Linked DNA regions of Homo sapiens. The protein of the gene in region 2 interacts with the protein of the main gene of each other region in a pairwise test. Each region holds a gene or a part of one and is shown on either strand. Other genes may lie near its edges. The genes, in order: HSD17B14 and MPG.

What was found.
Region 1: the proteins of MPG (region 2) and HSD17B14 interact in binary tests that used the Homo sapiens proteins (3 or more experiments, as listed by UniProt).

Annotation. Positions count from the first base shown.
Region 1 is NC_000019.10:48,815,853-48,819,756, forward strand, and holds part of HSD17B14 (L-fucose dehydrogenase), read right to left. Parts: intron 1-3,904. UniProt on the Homo sapiens protein: Catalyzes the NAD(+)-dependent oxidation of L-fucose, yielding L-fucono-1,5-lactone, which rapidly converts spontaneously to L-fucone-1,4-lactone. Can also act on D-arabinose and L-galactose, with lower catalytic efficiency. Does not use NADPH.
Region 2 is NC_000016.10:76,477-80,380, forward strand, and holds the start of MPG (DNA-3-methyladenine glycosylase), read left to right. Parts: upstream 1-1,748; 5' UTR 1,749-1,833; coding exon 1,834-1,857; intron 1,858-2,662; exon of another isoform or gene 2,663-2,816; coding exon of another isoform or gene 2,817-2,855; intron 2,856-2,948; coding exon 2,949-3,224; intron 3,225-3,904. UniProt on the Homo sapiens protein: Hydrolysis of the deoxyribose N-glycosidic bond to excise 3-methyladenine, and 7-methylguanine from the damaged DNA polymer formed by alkylation lesions.

The DNA.
Region 1 (3,904 bases), on a different chromosome or scaffold from region 2:
CTCTACTAAAAATACAAAATTAGCCAGGCATGGTGGTGCATTCCTGTAATCTCAGCTACTTGGGAGGCTGAGGCAGGAGAACTACTTGAACCCGGGAGGTGGAGGTTGCAGTGAGCCAAGATTGCGCTACTGCACTCGAGCCTGGGCAACAGAGCAAGACTCCGTTTCAGAAAAAAAAAAAAAAAAAAAAAGAAATGCACTGTTTCCTGCCACCGTTTCTCCTGCAATTCAACTCCCTGGCCACCTGGGAAGTCCCTAAATACTCTCTCTGTGTGTGTGCGTGTGTGTTCGTTGACTACACATGACCTTGGATAAACTCAAATTCTATCTTTGATCTCGCTTGCCTTAGAAAGCTGAGCTGGCCAGGCAAGGCCTGTCCCTGCCACTTAAGACTAATTGGTACAAGGCAGCACCCCTAGCAGGCTCTCCGAGTGGGAATCTAAATGAGCTCCCTGCCCGGTTCCCCCCACCAACTCTTTCAAGCCATTTCTGCTCCCCTCCCAAACGACCTCCACCCTTTTCCGTGCTGTATCTTCGACACACCCTGCGTGTTCAAACCTCAGGGCCTTTGAACTTGCTGTTCCCTCTGCCTGGAGTGCCTTTTCCTAAGAGAGCCACATGACCCACTCTTAGGGTGGCCAGCCATCCCAGTTTGCCCAGGACTGAAGGGTTTTTGGGGACATGGTATTTTCAGTCCACAGTGTCAATGCTAAACGGGGACTTTCCTGGGTAAACACTCCCTCAGCTCCCTCAAACCCTGATCCGAGGTCACCTCCTCAGTGAGGTCTTCCCTGGCTATACTGTTTAAAGCTGCAAGCCAGGATCACTAGCTCACACCTGTAATCCTTGCACTTTGGGAAGCCGAGGAGGGAGGATTGCTTGAACCCAGGTGTTTGAGGCCAGCATGGGCAGCTTAGCAAGACCCTTTTTCTTTCTTTCTTTCTTTCTTTCTTTCTTTCTTTCTTTCTTTCTTTTCTTTCTCTCTCTCTCTCTCTTTCTTTCAGATAGGGTATCACTCTGTTGTCTAGGCTGGAATGCAGTGGTGCAATCTCAGCTCATTGCAACCTCCACTTCCCAGGTTCAAGCAATTCTCCTGCCTCGGCTTCCCGAGTAGCTGGGACTACAGGCATGTGCCCCCACACCAGGATAATTTTTTTTTTTTTTTTTTTTTTTTAGTGGAGACAGGGTTTCACTATATTAGCCAGGCTGGTCTCGAACTCCTGATCTCACATGATCTGCCTGGCTCGGCCTCCCAAAGTGCTGGGATTCCAGGCTTGAGCCACTGTGCCTGGCCTGTCTTTATTTTTTTTAACAACAAAAAAATATTTTTTGTTTTATTTTTTGAGACAGAGTCTCACTCTGTTGCCCAGGCTGGAGTGCAGTGATGTCATCTTGGCTCACTGCAACCTCCTCCCCCCAGGTTCAAGCCCTTCTCCTGCCTCAGTCTCCTGAGTAGCTGGGACTACAGGCATGTGTCACCATGCCTGGCTAATTTTTGTATTTTTTAGTAGAGATGGGGTTTCACCATGTTAGCCAGGCTGGTCTTGAACTCCTGAGGTCAAGTAATCTGCCTGCTTCGGCCTCCCAAAGTGCTGGGATTACAGGCGTCAGCCACCACGCCTGGCCCCAAAAAATAAAATAATAAAATAAAACTGCAGTTCCCACACCCCTGGGTCCCCTTCCCTCTTTCAGATGTCTTTTCTCTGTGTCACACACTCCCTTCTGACAGGCCATATATATTTTACTTGTTTGTTCATGTTCTGTCTCTCCCACCAGCATGCAGAAACCTATGAGGGATGGTCAAGATTTCTTATTTTGTTTCTTCCCCAGCACTAAAGGTGCCTGGCACATAGCACATGCTTCATAAATATCCTTTGAATGAATGAATGGGTGAATTAATGAATGAATGGAGGACCTGGTATGTGTCCAGCCCTGTCCTCAGCAATTTACATGGATTAGCTCATTTCATCCCTCTAACATTCTCCTGTACCTACAAGAAGGAGGTACAGCTGAGAGTCCCATTTCACAAGCGAGGAGACTAAGGAATGGAGGGATGATTGACGCCCGCAGGGCATCACGTGACACCTGACAGCACCAGCATTTGCTGCTGGACAGGCTGAGACCCAAACCCATAAACAAACAACAATTTCTCACAATTCTAAGTATTAAGAACTTTAGGCCAGGCACAGTGGCTCACACCTGTAATCCTAGAACTTTGGGAGGCTGAGGCGGGCAGTCACCTGAGGTCAGGAGTTCAAGACCAGACTGGTCAACATGGCAAAACCCCATCTCTACTAAAAATACAAAAATTAGCCGGGTGTGGTGGTGCGTGCCTGTAATCCCAGCTACTCGGGAGGCTGAGGCAGGAGAATCTCTTGATCCCGGGAGGCAGAGGTTGCAGTAAGCCACAATCGCACCACTGCACTCCAGCCTGGGCAGCAGATAAAGACTGTCTCAAAAAAAAAGAAAAAAGAAAAAAGAAAAAGAGAAACCATGCTCTAATATGAACGTGAATGATGTGGGCATTGACCAGCCTCTGCCCTCCTCCTCAGGGAACCTCTCATCCTCGCCTCCTCTCACTCCCACCAGCCGTGACACCCTCCCTCCCTCCCAGTGCCCACCCCACCTGCCTTGCTCCATTTCTCTCTCAGTCTGTGCACCTGCCCTGCTGTTTAATCTCCTCCCCCACCTGACCCTGCAAACATGAGTCTCACCAGGGCTGAGACACGGATCTTGCCACCCTCACCCCAGCACGAGGCACACAGCTGGAGCTCAGTAAATATTTGTCCCACACTCCCTGAGTGTCCTTCTCCCCACACCCCTCAAGGTTGCTAAGCACCTGCTCTATATCAAGGACCCGCTGGGGGCCAGGTGCAGTGGCAGGTACCTGTAATGTCAGTGCTTTGGGAGACTGAGGTGGGAGGATCGCTTCAGTCCAGAAGTTCAAGGCCAGCCTGGGCAACATACTGAGACCCCAGTTCTTAAGTGCCAAGGTTCTGAGACAGGAGCAGGCCTGTTGTGTTTGGGAGCAATGAGGCCAGTGTGGCCGGAGGTGAGGTCAGAGAAGAACAGGGGCCAGATCACGAGGCCTTGAAGGCCCCCACTTCTCCCTTGGACAAATGCAATCAACTCCTTTTTTTGTTTGTTTGTTTCAGAGACAGAGTATTGCTCTGTCACCCAGGCTTGAGTGCAGTGGCACGATCTCGGCTCACTGCAACCTCCACCTCCCAGGTTCAAGCAATTCTTCTGCCTCAGCCTCCCGAGTAGCTGGGATTACGGGCGCCTACCACCACGCCTGGCTAATTTTTGTATTTTTAGTAGCAACGGGGTTTCTCCATGTTGGCCAGACTGGTTTCGAACTCCTGACCTCAGGCAACCTGCCCACCTCGGCCTCCCAAAGTGCTGGGATTACAGGCGTGAGCCACCATGCCCAGCTCAAATGCAATCAACTCCTAATACTGGTTCTCCCACTCTCACGCTTAACCCTCAGATTTGTCCCTCATACCTACAGGAGCCAGAGCCTATGATCTGTTAATAATACTAACAGGATCACATCACTCCCTTGCTCAAATACCTGCCACAGCTCCCTATTGCTCTTGACATAAAGACCAGATGATTCAGCATGCCCTTCAAGGCCCTGCCTGATCTGGTTCCCACCCCAATCTCTTCTTGCAACATCCCGTTCTCTCACTGGGCCCAGCTGGCAGCAGCACCAAACCCTGTCTCGCTGCCAGGCCCTCGCCCTGCCATCTCTTTCTCCACCTCCTCCACTGGTCAATGCTGCTCAGATTTCATTACTTCCAGGAAGTTTGGCTACATTCCCTGAACGGGCCAGCCTCCAGGTCACACTCTCCCAGAACCACACCCATCCCCCTCATAAAGCAAAACACACTCTTCTGAACTC
Region 2 (3,904 bases):
GGCAGGGGCCAATCTGCTCTCCAAGTGATTCTCTTTCCTCATAAGAAAGGTGGGGATAAAAACACCCCTCTGGGAGCCTCTGGACTCCCCGTGAGTTCTGCAAGGACCATGTATCACTTGTAACATCAGAATAAATATAAGTACAAAGTAACACCCATCCTCTCCCTGCCCATCAAGAGGACAAAGGCTCAACTGGGGCCTCAGTTTCCCTACTAGACTGAGGGGGAGCACTCGGGGGGATGGGGGGCTGTTCCCACAGGAAGGAGAGACTCATTGTTTGGGAGGCATGGCTGCAGATAAGCAGGGAGGGTGTGGAATCACATCCAGGGCTGCTTTATAAACACGGATTGATGACACATTATGCCCCCACCCCGGGAAGCGGCACACAGTGCTACAAACAGCTGGTGGCTTCCAGCCGGCTGATGGCCCCTCCCTCCCCAGGAAGTCCTGGCTGGGGCCCATGGGGGTGGGACGGCTGGTCAGAGGAGGAGAGGCAGTTGGAGACCAGGTCCTGCCCTGTTAGCCTTTCTGTAGGACCAGGTGTCACACTCATCTGAGGGCTCCAGACACATGGCCTGTGCGTCTGTCCTGCCCAGCGTCTCCCACCTGACGCGGCCAGGTGCCCAGTTGCTCTTCAAGGCCTTTTCAGGTGCTCCTTTCCAGGACCAGGGTCACAGAAGTCAAAGCTCAGGAAAAGCCCCTCGAGGGTTTTTGTGCGGCAGAGGTGGGTTGTGGGGTGGGATTGTGCCTGCCACAGTGGAGGGGCCCTGCAGACCCAGATAAACCTTCAAGTGGCCAGAAGCGGGGGATGGCTCTGCTGGGTGCTGGGGCTGCCATGGGCCGTGGGAGCCAGCAGTGTGCCCAGCTCCCTCAGGGCCCGTCCCCTAGGCCCTTCCGTCCACTGGGCCAAGCACCGTCCCTGCCCCTCCCTAGGGGCATGGATCTGACTTGAGAGGTTGTGAGAGCTTACAGGCGCTGGGCCGTCGGGGAGGCCTCAGAAGCGTAGGACGGCTGCGCACTGCCGGGCCGTGTTCAGCCCTGGTCTGGCCTCGGCCTCTAGAGGAGGCTGCCTGCGCTCCAGCAGGCCCAACCCAGAACGTGGGCGAGCTCCCTTCAGCATCCCTGGGCGGAAAGAGGGATGGGGGCTCTGCTGCAGAGGCAGAATCCGCGCCGCTCCCTCCTTCCTTCCCCCGACCAGCCTGTGACAACCCCGGCCAGGGGCGGGGGCCTCCGCACAAGCCTGGCGTCCACTTCCTGGATAAGGACTCCCCGGCCCACTCCGGACCAGGGCTGGGGCGGCCTCCCAGGCGCTCACTCCGCTGGCACCCCACCGGAAAACACGTCTGCGGCCCGCCCCCTCCCCCAAAGCACGACCACTCCGCCCGGGCCCCTCGAGGATCCACTCAGGTTCACGACGGGCCCGTCCTCTCGGTGGTCTGACCACCGGCTGGTGGAGTGGGCTCTGGGGCCGCCAGGCGACCAGGGCGCAGGCGGGGGCGGACAGCTCATTGGGAGGGGCGCCGGGGCACAGTGCGGGGCTCGCCCCACCCCCAGGTGCCCCTTCCCCGCTCTCGCCTCGCAGGCACCGCATCGGGCCCGGGAATCGGTCCGGACCTGGCGGTGGGCGCTGGGAAGAGGATCCACCTCCACGTGGCCCGCCCCGCCCCGGGGGCGCAGCCAGTTCCCGGCGCTCACTGCCCCCCTTCTCCCGGCTTCCGTCCCCTTCTGCGCAGGCGCCGCTCCGCCCCGGTCCTAGGGGTGCTTCCGTGGTCGGCGGCTGCTGGGCTCCGCGCCGGGGTCCGAGTCCCACGAAGCCCCGGCCCGAGCCGCCGGATGCCCGCGCGCAGCGGGGCCCAGGTGAGCGCGCGCCTCGGCCGCCCCGCGGAACAGACGCGCCCACCCCCAGGCGCAGCAGCGAGCGCGGCCGCGGGAGCGGGAGTGCCGGGGACGGGCGTAGCGCCCACCGCCCCGAGGGTTCGGGGCAGAGCCAGAGCATAGGCCAAGGGCCAAGCTCGGGCCGAGAGCAGTGGCCGCAGCGCCCGGGGGCTGAACCCACGGCGCGCTGGCAGCGCGGGCCGAGCTGCGGAGACGGTCACGTCAGCGTCCGTTCCAGGCCGACTGGCAGTCTCCGTTCTACATTAACGTCAGCACTCCCGTTAAAAATAATGCATCTCTCCCATGCCAGGAGGACTTAGGTGCTGCTAAAGACCAGCCCTCCGGGTGCTGCCAGGCCGGCGCTCACCCGCCACCTTCATCTTCCCTTCTCCTTTGCCCCAGGACAGCCGAGGATGTGTGGTTAGGTTCCCCCTACCCATGGGGAGGCCAGAGGTGGGAGGCTGGCGGCCTGCTCGGTCTCAGCAGACCCTCCTAGTCCCTCAGGAGACCTTGCCTTTGCCCCACTTGCTCGTTATCCAGCCTGGGCCATGAAGCAGAGGACAGTTAGGGACCCTGAGCACGCGGTGGTCACCCCGGTGCTCACCCCTCCCTGTGTGTCCGACCTTGGCCCTGCTAAGATCCTGTGTTTTGAATTCTGGCAAGGGTTGGATGAAAGGGCAGGGCTCCAGAAACCAGCTCAGACGTTTGCTTGGGACCTGCATGATGAGTGGGAATCGGAGGGCACCAGCCCTGCTGTCCCAGGCTCAGGCCCCCATCTGCTCCCCAGGTCATGCAGCCTGGGCCCCCATGCCGTGCAGCTCGCACATATGTGGGGCAGAGCAGCCACCCTGCCCCCAGCAGCAGCCGTCCATCGTCAGACGTGATCATTTCCTGAGGCCTCGAGTGTGTCAGGGTGTTTGTGCCTCATAACAACCCACAGGATGGTCACCCCCGCTTTGCAGATGAAGAAACCAAAGCAGGTGGTCAGATCCAGTCCTTGCACTTCCTGAGCCTGACCTTACCACACAGCTGTCTCCTATTCGGATGCTTATTTATTTTTTTTCCCATTACAGTTTTGCCGACGGATGGGGCAAAAGAAGCAGCGACCAGCTAGAGCAGGGCAGCCACACAGCTCGTCCGACGCAGCCCAGGCACCTGCAGAGCAGCCACACAGCTCGTCCGATGCAGCCCAGGCACCTTGCCCCAGGGAGCGCTGCTTGGGACCGCCCACCACTCCGGGCCCATACCGCAGCATCTATTTCTCAAGCCCAAAGGGCCACCTTACCCGACTGGGGTTGGAGTTCTTCGACCAGCCGGCAGTCCCCCTGGCCCGGGCATTTCTGGGACAGGTAATGTGAACATAGCAGCGAGGGCCCTCCTGAAGTGCCTGTCACTGCAGTTGTCCCTGAACCCCTGTCCGCTGCCTGCTGGATTGGCCCTCAGTTAGTCCTCCTTGTCCTCATGCATTTAGCGGCTTTGCTCACACTGGTCCCTGCTTAGCTTCATCTCAGTTGCCTGAGGTCATCTGGGAAGAATGTAGAGATTGTCAGTGCTGCTTGCCCAGGGTGGAGCAGGGGTGCCACTGTCTGCCCCCGGCTCTGGGCATCTAGGGCAGGAGCACTTGCACCGTTAGCCTTCCTCACCGGCAATCCACCTCAGTTTTTCCACACGTGGGAACTGTGGCTGTGGCCAGTGTCGGGCTGCCCCTTCCCGCTGTAGTGGCTCACAGTGCAGTGCTGGCTTCCCAGGGCCCCTGCAGCTTAATGTAGGTCAAGGATCTGGGCTCTGCCAATCAGACTTGGAGTAAGAAGCAGGGACTGCCCAGGTCCCATCCTGGTGGGGCCTACGGTGCAGCCTGTCCCCACGAGCAGATGCTCACACAGCCGTGGCATCTTGGCTGGATCTGTTGGGAGCGAGGTGGTGGCGGTGGTCCTCGATGCCAAAGCCCCAGGCCTGCCTTTCTGGTTCTCCAGAGGCTCCAAGGCCTTCCCTTTGTCCTTTAATGAGCCTACTTTTAGGTTATAATCAC